3 linked regions of the Homo sapiens genome follow. The protein of the gene in region 2 interacts with the protein of the main gene of each other region in a biochemical or structural test. Each region holds a gene or a part of one and is shown on either strand. Other genes may lie near its edges. The genes, in order: NUP88, NUP98 and TNPO1.

Region 1 (3,655 bases), on a different chromosome or scaffold from region 2:
CCGGCACATGCCATTATGCCCAGCTAATTTTTTTTGCAGAGACAGGATCTCACTGTATTGCCCACATTGGTCTCGAACTCAGGGGCTCAAATGATCCTCCCACCTCGGCCTCCCAAAGTGCTGGGATTACAGGTGTGAGCCACTGCAACCAGCCAAGATGAGTTTTAAACTGGACACACTGTTTTCATAACTAGAAGTAACGAGAAAGCTATGGGGATCTGTATAAGACATCATTAAGGGGTGAGTCATTCAGCAGTGAAGGAAGATTTAGTAGAGCACAGTTAAAAGCAGTGATTACGAAAAATAAAACTGAAGGTATCTGTACCTCTGCTGAGTCCCCCCAATAACTTTTTACATAAGGCCGATCCAGAAAGTTAGCTGATAATAGAGTAGAAATCTACGTAGCATTAGGGCATTTAATCATAGAGTGCAAAGCTTGGAAGGGGCGTTAGAAACTATTGAATCAAACCTGCTCAATTTAAAAGATTGGAAACTGAGCCCCCCAACCCCTAAAAAGCTCAAGATCTCAAAGATAACAGAAAAGGAGGTGGGACAATAATTCAAATCTCTAAATTTACACTTACATTCTCTTTCCTTTATGCTACATTATTACCAAAAGGGTGACAATGATGAAAGAGTTTTGGAAAGATTATTCTAAGGTGTCAGATTAGGAGAGGAGATACCTGGAGGCAGGAAGACTAGTTGAGAAGGAATAGTGGTAAGTTAGAGCAGTTAGGCAATTCTTATGATTGAGAATGGGTTACAACAGCCATCCAATAAAAGCACTGACTCATTCAATGACTCACTTCGTTCTATGTTGAGCTGTTAATTGGCAAACAGAAACAGAGCTTTCCCACTCGCAAGGCTTCAAGAGAGAGAAATAAAATTTACCTGATTACGTTGTCTGATGTTAACAGCACTACGTGGGGATCCAGGATTTCACTTGGATACCATGCAGCATGCTTTAGAGTCAGAGAGGTGGAACTGGTGAAAAATCTCTCCGCAACTGGAGTGGTACTAAAATAAAGATAATAATTTTCCAAAACATTTTGTACAACTTGGATGAAAATCTTCTAAAGGAACTTCTTTTTTTTGCAGATGGAGTTTCTCTCTTGTTGCCCAGGCTGGAGTGTAACGGCACAATCTCGGCTCACTGCAACCTCCGCCTCCCAGGTTCAAGTGATTCTCCTGCCTCAGTCTTTCAAGTAGCTGGGATTACAGGCACCTGCCACCTCGCCCAGCGAACTTTGTATTTTCAGTAGAGAGGGGGTTTCTCCATGTTGGTCAGGCTGGTCTCAAACTCCCGACCTCAGGTGATCTGCCCACCTCGGCCTCGCAAAGTGCTGGGATTACAGGCATGAGCCACCACGCCAGGCCCTGAAGAAATTTCTATTTTAACACTCTTTGATTCTCTTTCCTTCAGATTTATTTCCCTGAAATCATGCTGAGAGGACATTCAAGGCATCTATTCAATCAATATCAAAGAATTGAAATAAAAATATCTTCTAAATTATAGCACACTGGCTGGGCGCAATGGCTCACGCCTATCTTAGCACTTTGGGAGGCCAAGGCAGGTGGATCACCTGAGGTCAGGAGTTTGAGACCAGCCTGGCCAACATGGTAAAACCCCGTCTCCACTAAAAATACAAGAATTAGGCAAGTGTGGTGGCACATGCCTGTAACCCGTTACCCGTGAGGCTGAGGCAGAAGAATCGCTGGAACCCAGGAGGTGGAGGCTGCAGTGAGCTGAGCTTGTGCCACTGCACTCCAGCCCGGGCTGAGGAGGTTGCAGTGAGCTGAGATCACGCCACTGCACTCCAGCTTGGGCTACAGAGCCAGACTCTGTCTCAAAATAAATAAATAATTTATTTATTTTAATAATTTAAATTATTTATTTAAATTTTATTTGTTTATTTATTTGAGATGAAGTCTCACTCTGTGGCCCAAGCTGGAGTGCAGTGGCGTGATCTTTGCTCACTGCAACCTCCGCCTCCTGGATTTAATCAATACTTGTGCCTTAACCTCCTGAGTAGCTGGGACTACAGGCGTGTGCCACCACACCCCACTTATTTTTTGTATTTTAGTAGAAATGAGGTTTCACCATGTTGCCCAGGGTGGTCTCAAGCTCCTGAGCTCAGGTGATCCACCTGCCTCGGCCTCCCAAAGTGCTGGGATTACAGGTGTGAGCCATCGTGCCTGGCTCCAAATTATAGCATATTTCATACGTATATATACATTTTAGGATGGTTTGACTTAGGATTGATACATATTTATACAGTACAAGTGTTTTCAGATATAGTATCTCATTTGATCTTTTTACTAACCCTGTAAGGAAATTACAAGGGCAGATATTATCAATCCTATTTTTAAAATGAGGAAACAGATTTAGAAGGTAAACAGTTTAAGGGGACTCAACTTATAAGTTGCGGAGCTAAAAGCAGTTTCTACCTTATACAGATGATCCCCAACTTTACAATGGGTTTACCAGTACATAAGCCAACATAAACTGAGGAGCTCCTTACGACTTATGATGGGGTTACCCATCATAATGTTGAAAAATCCTACGTTGAACCATCCTAAATCGGGGATCCTCTGCTGTGTTGTCAGCAATAAATCCATTTTCAACTTACACTGGGTTTATCGGGACATAACCCAATCGTAAGTTGAAAAGCATCTGTACTCTTTTCAGTAGATCTTTCAGATTCACTTTTCTGGATTTGTTGAAAAAGAAATTATATAAAAATAGGCCAGGTGCGGTGGCTCACACCTATAACCCCGGCACTTTGGGAGGCTAAGGTGGGTGGATCACTTGAGGTCAGGAGTTCAAGACCAGCTTGGTCAACATGGTGAAACCCCGTCTCTACTAAAAATACAAAAATTAGCTGGGCATGGTAGCGCTTGCCTGTAATCCCAGTTACTCGGGAGGCTGAGGCAGAAGAATCGCTTGAATCCAGGAGGCGGAGCTTGCAGTGAGCCGAGATTGTGCCACTGCACTCCAGCCTGGGTGACAGAGCAAGACTCCATCTCAAAAAAAAAAAAAAAAAAAAAAGTATATATATATATACACACATACACACACACACACACACATAAAATACTTACACTTCTGGCAAACTTCTGGCTGACAGATAACTGGTTTTACAAAATCTTACTTCTACCTAATCGAAAGAATGGCCTAGCCTCAAATGAGACAGCAACGTGGTACTTCAGGCAGAATAAAGTACAATCAATTACACATATACTATGAACATTGATAACACAGAAGCCAGTCTGCAGACCACGAGGAGTGTTTTAATGTTTTAAGAGTAGTATACTAAACATGCTTAAGAACCACTAGTCTTGAACAATTTTCTGTATATATAATAAATTATACAGATAAATAGTATACAACTTACCTACAATTCACTGTTGATTTTCCACCTTCAAATTCAGAATTCTTCCCCCATCTTTTAGGTAATTCTAATACCATAAGTCCTTTTATTCCTATAAGTGCTACATGATGTTGTGTTGGGCTTAACAAGACTTGATAGATTTCAAACAGGGGTGGATTTATGCAAAGCAATCTCTGAAAATTAGAGCAAACCAGTCAACATAGTTAATTTTAATTTAAATATAGGTGGCAGTTACTTGAAATCACAGTAATACTTAGTTTACT
Region 2 (3,655 bases):
ACATCAAAGAGTCTAAAACTTACAGTAAATAGCCTATTAAACTCTGCTTAACCTCGTGTTTTTCCAGATTTAACCACAGAACATTATTTTCAAAGGACACCCATTAACATCCCGGACTATAAAAGGTATCTCATAAAATACTCTGAGAAAAGCTTAATCAGCTTTTTATTTTATTTTACACACAAGGATACCAAAACCTACAGTGGAAATAACTTGTGTTGGCTTATACTGTAATTTAACAATAGAAGTAGATATAAAACTCCAAACCCAATTCTTCTTGTTTCATTGCCTGTTTTGCATAAACCTCTTTTATTTTTCAAATTTACACTCCCAAATAAAGAGCTAAAAGAAAGATGAAAAATCCAGCCAGGCAAGGTGGCTCATGCCTGTAATCCAAGGACTTTGGGAGGCCGGGGTGAGTAAATCACTTGAGGCCAGGAGTCCAAGACAAGCCTGGCTAACATGGCAAAAATCCATTATCTACCAAAAATACAAAAATTAGCTGGGCATGGTGGCGGGTGCTTGTAATCCCAGCTACTCGGGAGGTTGAGGAAGGAGAATCGCTTGAACCTGGGAGGCAGAGGATGCAGTGAGCTGAGATCACACCACTGCACTCCAGCCTGGGCAACCAAGAGTGAAACTCGGAAGGAAGGGAGGGAGGGAGGAAGGAAGAAAAGAAGAAAGAAAGAATAAATTAAAATAGAAAAAAAAATACCAAAATAAAAAAAGCAGAGCGCTGAAAAACTCAAGGAAAGTAGTGGAACGCTGGTGTGCTTGCTTGCTCTATTCACTCCTTGTCCTACTTGTAGTCAGATATAAGGCTAACTTGCTCTCTGAGAGAAAAGTATTTCAGGCCAACATCAGACCAAACTCCAGCCTCCAGCAACACCCACTTGTATACTTGCTTCTTGGGAAGGGAACTCTAAATTGGGTGGCAGCAAACAAGGTAAATGAAAAAACTAGAATATAAAACTTCCTATTAAAAAGATATATAGTAGCATAATAAATTCATGTAGAGATACATACACAAATACAGATTAAGCACCTGGAATTCTTTTTTTTTTTTTTTTTTTTTTTAGGAGACAGGATCTTGGTCTGTCAACCCAGGCTGGAGTTCAGTGGCATAATCATAGCTCACTGCAACCTTGAATCCTGGGTTCAAGTGATCCTCCCACCTCAGCTTCCGTAGTAGCTGCAACTACAGGTACATGCCACCACACCTGGCTAATTACTTTTAAGTTTATTGTAGATATCAGGTCTTGCTATGTTGCCCAGACTGATTTCAAACTTCTGGGTTCAAACGATCCTCCCACCTAAGCCTGCCAAAGTGCTGAGCCACCACACCCAGGCTACCTGGGATTCTTACTGTCAAAGTATAAACTTCTTTCCTTATGATACTAAGTAACCAAATATATATATATATATAATGGCAATAAGAAAACTAAATATAAATTTTGGAGACACTTCAAGAATACCACAAAACACCCAAAATGGGCTGGGCATGGTGGCTCATGCCTGTAATCCTAGCACTTTGGGAGGCCAAGATAGGAGGATCACTTGAGCCCAGGATTTTGAGACCAGCCCAGGAAACATGGCAAAACAAAAGATGCAAAACTTAACGGGGTGTGGTATCATGTGCCTGTAGTGCCAGCTACTCGGGTGGCTGAGATGAGAGGTCCTGATCCCTGGAGGTTGAGGTTGCAGTGAGCCAAGACTGCGACACTGCACTCCAGCCTGGGCGACAGAGCGACACTGTCTCAAGAAAAAACAAACAAACAAACAAAAAACAATAAGCAATCTATCCGAGTTTACAAAGCCAGGGAAAATATCAGGATAGTCTCTTTGGCTATAAAATTTGGGTTCTTTAGACTACACCAGGATAATTAAAGATGTATCAATTTTCATACTCTAAGGTCCAAAGAGTATGTGAACTCTGAATCAACTAAAGCATAAAACTGTTTAAATATTAAGCTCTCCTATGTGGGATCACATAAAATAATACTTAAAATGCCAAACAGCTGACTTCCATATGTTGAATATCTGCAACAAGCAAGTCATCTCGAATGACTGGTAAGAGATTAAACATGCACCAATCTGAACCTGACCTGCTGGGTGCATATGGTAAGAATTATTTTCTATTTCTTCTCGGTCATCCTGAAGTGACTCATCATGAAAAGACGTTTCTTCACTGCTTCCTTCCAGCCCATTTCGCAAAGCAGCACGCATGTTTAATGCAACAATGGTATCATCCACACTGTTGCTGTTGCTGTGTTTATTTCCAGCACTTTCTGGGGTTTGAGGAATAGGTTTGGCAATAGGGTTAGTATAAAAATGTGAAACAAGGGAATCTTCATCTCCATCCTGCTGGTGATTCTCATCAACAGGTTTGCTTAGGAAACTAAATCTGCAAAGGAAAAGAAATAATACCTTAGCCTCTTGTAGTAGTAATAACAATGATAATAGCTAACTAATACCGAGCCTTTACTAAGTGCCTGGCACTGTTCTGGATAGTTCCATGTATTAAAAATTCACTTAATACTTACTACAGCAGTACTGTGAAACAGATAATTACTATCTCTATTGTATACTCTCCTATATGGAATCAAATAATTGGTTAATTTTAAGATTAAAAACTGAAAAAAATGTTAGATTTTTAAGATTACAATCAACAAAATGTTAAAAAATGCTTTATAAATAATAATAATAATAAAAAACACTAGAATTTTATCCAAAAGAAAAAAAAAACAGGAGTACAAAGGTGTCTATACAAAGGGTTTCTTTTTTTTTTTTTCTTTTTCGTGATACAGCCCTCAGGAGGCCCTGAGAACTTGTGCCAGTATATAAGGATTTTTACTGAAGCACTGTTTTGAGTACAGGAATACCGGATAATCTAAATGTCCACTAACAAGGAACTGGTCAAGTTATCTTACATTCACAATAATGACTTATGCAATCATTAAAAAAGAAAAGACAAATATATTCATACAGATAATGGAAAGGCATTTCTAATAAAATAAATGGAAATAAGCAGGTTACAGAATATATCATTCGTGCATAATCTTTATATAATAAAATATATTTATAAAGAAAGAAATTTCGGCTGGGTGTGGTGGATAACGCTTGTAATCCCAGCACTTTGTGAGGCCGAGGCGGGTGGATCGCTTGAGGTCAGGAGTTCAAGACCAGCTTGACCAACATGGCGAAACCCTGTTTCTACTAAAAATACAAAAAAAATTAGCTGGGCGTGGAGGTGCATGCCTGTAATCCCAGCTACTCAGGAGGCTGAGGCAGGAGAATTGCTTGAACAATTCACATCAGAGGATACAGTGGGCCGAGATCGTGCCACTGCACTCCAGCCTGGGTAATAAGAGCAAAACTCCATCTCAAAAAAAAAAAATAAATAAATAAATTTCTGATATGAAAGAATATATACCTAACTATTAAGAATCACTGTACAAGGCTGGGCACGGTGGCTCACGCATGTAATACCAACGTTTTAGGAGGCCAAGGCGGGCAGATCACTTGAGGTCAGGAGCTCGAGACCATCCTTGGCTAACAAGGTGAAACGCCGTCTCTACTAAAAATACAAAAATTAATCAGGCATGGTGGCGGGTGCCTGTATTCCCAGCTACATGGGAGGGTGAGGCAGGAGAAT
Region 3 (3,655 bases), on a different chromosome or scaffold from region 2:
CCAGGCTGGTCTCAAACTCCTGACCTCAGGTGATCTGCCCGCCTCAGCCTCCCGAAGTGCTGGGATTACAGGCGTGAGCCACCGCGCCAGGCCTTATGCTTTTAAATAGGGAAAAACATCTTACCCATTTGAATGGAGATTTCTCCAATTGCCCATGTGGCATTGTTGCAGACTGAAATGAATTCTGGATTTAGGTTGGTTCCCAATATTGGCATGAAATCAGCTAGAAAAAAAATTTAAACTATGTAGTAAACTTTTCAATAGCAGTATATTGTACTTTAAAGGAAATCTACTAGGTGGAAACAGAAATCTAAGCAAGAAATAACAAGTTTCACCATTAAAAAAATTACTGCAACATCAATTTTAAAATTGGTGGAAATAAACTAGGCAACTGTATTTAAAAATATTTTTTAAAGGAGTTGGTAATGTTTATCTTAAGAAACTGAAGAAAACAGTATCTGGCCAATGAACTTTCAAATAATGTGGAACAGGAAATACAAGTTTGGGTATATTTTACATACCACTAAAAAGAGTTGGTCAGAGTAATCTCTTGTAATTAGACTAAAAAAAAAAAATCAATGATTTTGGCTTTTAAAGCAATTTTCACTCTTGTGCTCTGATTGTGGTCTCTGAATAACATTTTCCACTAAAAAAAAATGGACTCTCAGAAAACGTCACATTACAGGCAAAGGCAGGAAATGTGCAAAATAAGTGGACTATCTTGTCATAATGAAAGGACTCGGGAGCCAACTTAAGTTCTCACTGCAAGCAGTACAACAGCTTGAACATCATGAAGTCACACTAGCACTAAAAACAATCAAACAAAAACAAAACTCTGAAACATCAAAGATACCTTTGGAGGATGATAGGAATCAATTCATTATTTTGAAAATTGGTAAATAAAAAAAAGAATCAAGTATTTATCTTGCCTCTGCTATATGATTTTACCTCAGGATAGTAATTTATTGATATGGGAAATGTCTCCCTATATAAGTATCTTCATTATTAAATGAAGAATTAGAATATCATAATTTTTTAAACTCCTAATAAATCAGGAGATGTAAGCCAGGGTTTCTTGATCTCAGCAATATTGACAGTTTGGGCCAGATCATTTTTTTGTTGGGGGGAAGGGGAGCTGTCTCCTGTATTATAAGATGTTTAGCAACATCCTTTGCTTCTACCCACTAGACATCAATGGCACCTCTCCAGCATCAAACAAAATGTCTCCAGACACTGGCAAATGTTCCCCGAATGGCAAAATTGCCCCTAGTTGAGAACCACTAATTGAGACAATCATCAAGATTGGTAACATTAAAAAAAAAAAAAGGAGGGACAACTAGACACTATGTACACTAAGTACACAATACCATCTATAAAGTCTTAAAAACAAAACAACGTAAATCTCATTAAACCTCAGTCTCTGTATCCAAACAATTTACAGTAAATACAACGGACAGAGGAACATGTTAAAGACAACAAAGATGCAATCAGTAAAATCCACAGTAAAGGAAACTCTTTAGAATAAAAAACATGGTTTCTTTAACAAAAAACAATTGTAAGAAGAGATAGTATAGTATGTACTAAAATATTAAGACTTCAAATGCTGTGTTTGAGATTTGCTCCAAAATATCTGAGATCTATGTGTCTCACCACTGACAACAGTATATAGGAAACAGGACTGGACAGTTGAAGCTGGGTGATAGGAGGTTTGTTACATTTTTTCTACTTTTGTACGTCTTAAACACTTTATAATAAAAAAATTAAATCCTTTCATATAAGTTTCAACTAAAAAACTAAATTAGGTGGTAAATATGAGAATGATAAGCTTCCCATAAGAATTCATTACACTGTTAGGTTTAAACTTGATGGTTCTTAATATATCATAATTAATGTTAATTATGTTAGTTTTTTGAGAAATGGTTATCCAAAAGCACAATTATATCAGATGACAAAACATTCAATTAATATTTTAAATTAAGGTTTAAATGAAGTATTAAAATAATTTTTTTTGAGACGGAGTCTTGCTCTGTTGCCCAGGCTGGAGTGTAGTGGTACAGTATCAGCTCACTGCAGACTCTGCCTCCCGGGTTCAAGCGATTTTCCTGCCTCAGTTTCCCAAGTAGCTAGAACTACAGGCACAAGCCACCACGCCTGGCTAAGTTTTTGTATTTTTAGTAGAAGCGGGGTTTCACCGTGTTAGCCAGGATGGTCTTGATCTCCTGACTTCGTGACCTGCCCGCCTTGGCCTTCCAAAGTGCTGGCATTACAGGTCTGAGCCGCCGTGCCCGGCTGTATTAAAATAATTGTTACCCAACATGCTGAGATGCAGAAAAGGGGGAAAAAAATCCCATAACTCATTTATAACCCATAGGTTTAAGAACAATTCCGGGTACAACATTCAAGGAATTTCTTATCATTGTCACAGAAGGCCAAGACAAATGCTATGCTAGTCTCGAATCTCGCACTCCTGACCTCAAGTGATCTGCCTGCCTTGGCTTCCCAAAGTGCTGGCATTACAGGTGTGAGCCCCCAGGCCCAGTCTCAGTTAAAGTGACATTTGTTGGAAGTTTTCTGCAATATCTGAAAAAGTATGCTGGTTTGCTAGAGAAGAAAACCTGATTATTACTATTTCTGTGTACCTCTACCAAAAAGGTGGCTACTCAAAAAAGAATCTATTAACTAGTCCATGGTACCAAGGCTTCCCTGGTGGGCATGTCCTTTACTCTAAAGTATATTACTAAGCTTTCCTCCAGTCACAGGAGTACCTAAAAAGCTGAGATGATGGCAAGCTCAAGGAAATATTAGGGGTTCCTGCCATCTTGCCTGTTTCAATCACAGCAAGTTTACTTTAACCAATAAAGTGTACATTTATAAATGTTGGGATTCCATGCAATTTCAGTTTAATAATAAAAAAACAAAGCTGATGTAAATGTTAACTTTAAAAAACCATATTCATAGCAGTAGAAAATATTCATACCTATACAAGGCTTAACATGCTGAAAGCAAGCTTTTGTGAGGTCACCTAACAGGGCAAAAGAACTCTGTCGAACTTCTGGCATTTTATCCTACAAGAAATAAGAAGAAATTAACCCCAATGTGACACAGAGAAACAGGCTTCAATTCATTTTCACCTTTCAAGTCTCACCTGCATGCACTGATACATTAGTGTCAGGATGTTACTTCGGGCTACCAGCTGTTCAATGTTGCCTCCAAGTCCTTCAGCCAGGCCACTCAGTAAATCAAGAGCCACTATCATAAAATCTTTATCTGGAGCTTCATATTGATCTGGTTGAGCATTGTTTAGCTGAAATTAGACACAATGTTTTTTGTAAGTTTGGTTTTAATTAACTACTTAAAAAGTCTGTATACATTATACCTATCTTTAGAAAAATGTCCACCATGTCAAGAAGAGGAAGACATTTTAAAAAAATTACCATGGCTTGTGCAAGAGTCTTCTGTACTAGGTTTACACAACGCTGATACACAGGTTCACAGTACGGAAGGAATCCAGACTGCAGTGCTGTGGCAACTGAAGATAGGCACTAGGAAGAATAAAGTACACATGCTAAACTTTCTGGGTATACTGAAGATTATGATGAATGCTTGAAACTGCGCTCAACAGGATCCTGATCATTTATGAGCTTGCTCTACTAGT

Evidence for each region.
Region 1: the proteins of NUP98 (region 2) and NUP88 form a complex in vitro, tested with the Homo sapiens proteins (2 studies listed by BioGRID).
Region 3: the proteins of NUP98 (region 2) and TNPO1 form a complex in vitro, tested with the Homo sapiens proteins (one study listed by BioGRID).

Annotation. Positions count from the first base shown.
Region 1 is NC_000017.11:5,413,118-5,416,772, forward strand, and holds part of NUP88 (nuclear pore complex protein Nup88), read right to left. Parts: intron 3,566-3,655; coding exon 3,396-3,565; intron 1,018-3,395; coding exon 892-1,017; intron 1-891. UniProt on the Homo sapiens protein: Component of nuclear pore complex.
Region 2 is NC_000011.10:3,721,052-3,724,706, forward strand, and holds part of NUP98 (nuclear pore complex protein Nup98-Nup96 isoform 1 precursor), read right to left. Parts: intron 2,405-3,655; coding exon 2,106-2,404; intron 1-2,105. UniProt on the Homo sapiens protein: Plays a role in the nuclear pore complex (NPC) assembly and/or maintenance. NUP98 and NUP96 are involved in the bidirectional transport across the NPC. May anchor NUP153 and TPR to the NPC.
Region 3 is NC_000005.10:72,893,026-72,896,680, reverse strand, and holds part of TNPO1 (transportin-1), read right to left. Parts: intron 3,543-3,655; coding exon 3,435-3,542; intron 3,305-3,434; coding exon 3,146-3,304; intron 3,066-3,145; coding exon 2,978-3,065; intron 224-2,977; coding exon 125-223; intron 1-124. UniProt on the Homo sapiens protein: Functions in nuclear protein import as nuclear transport receptor. Serves as receptor for nuclear localization signals (NLS) in cargo substrates.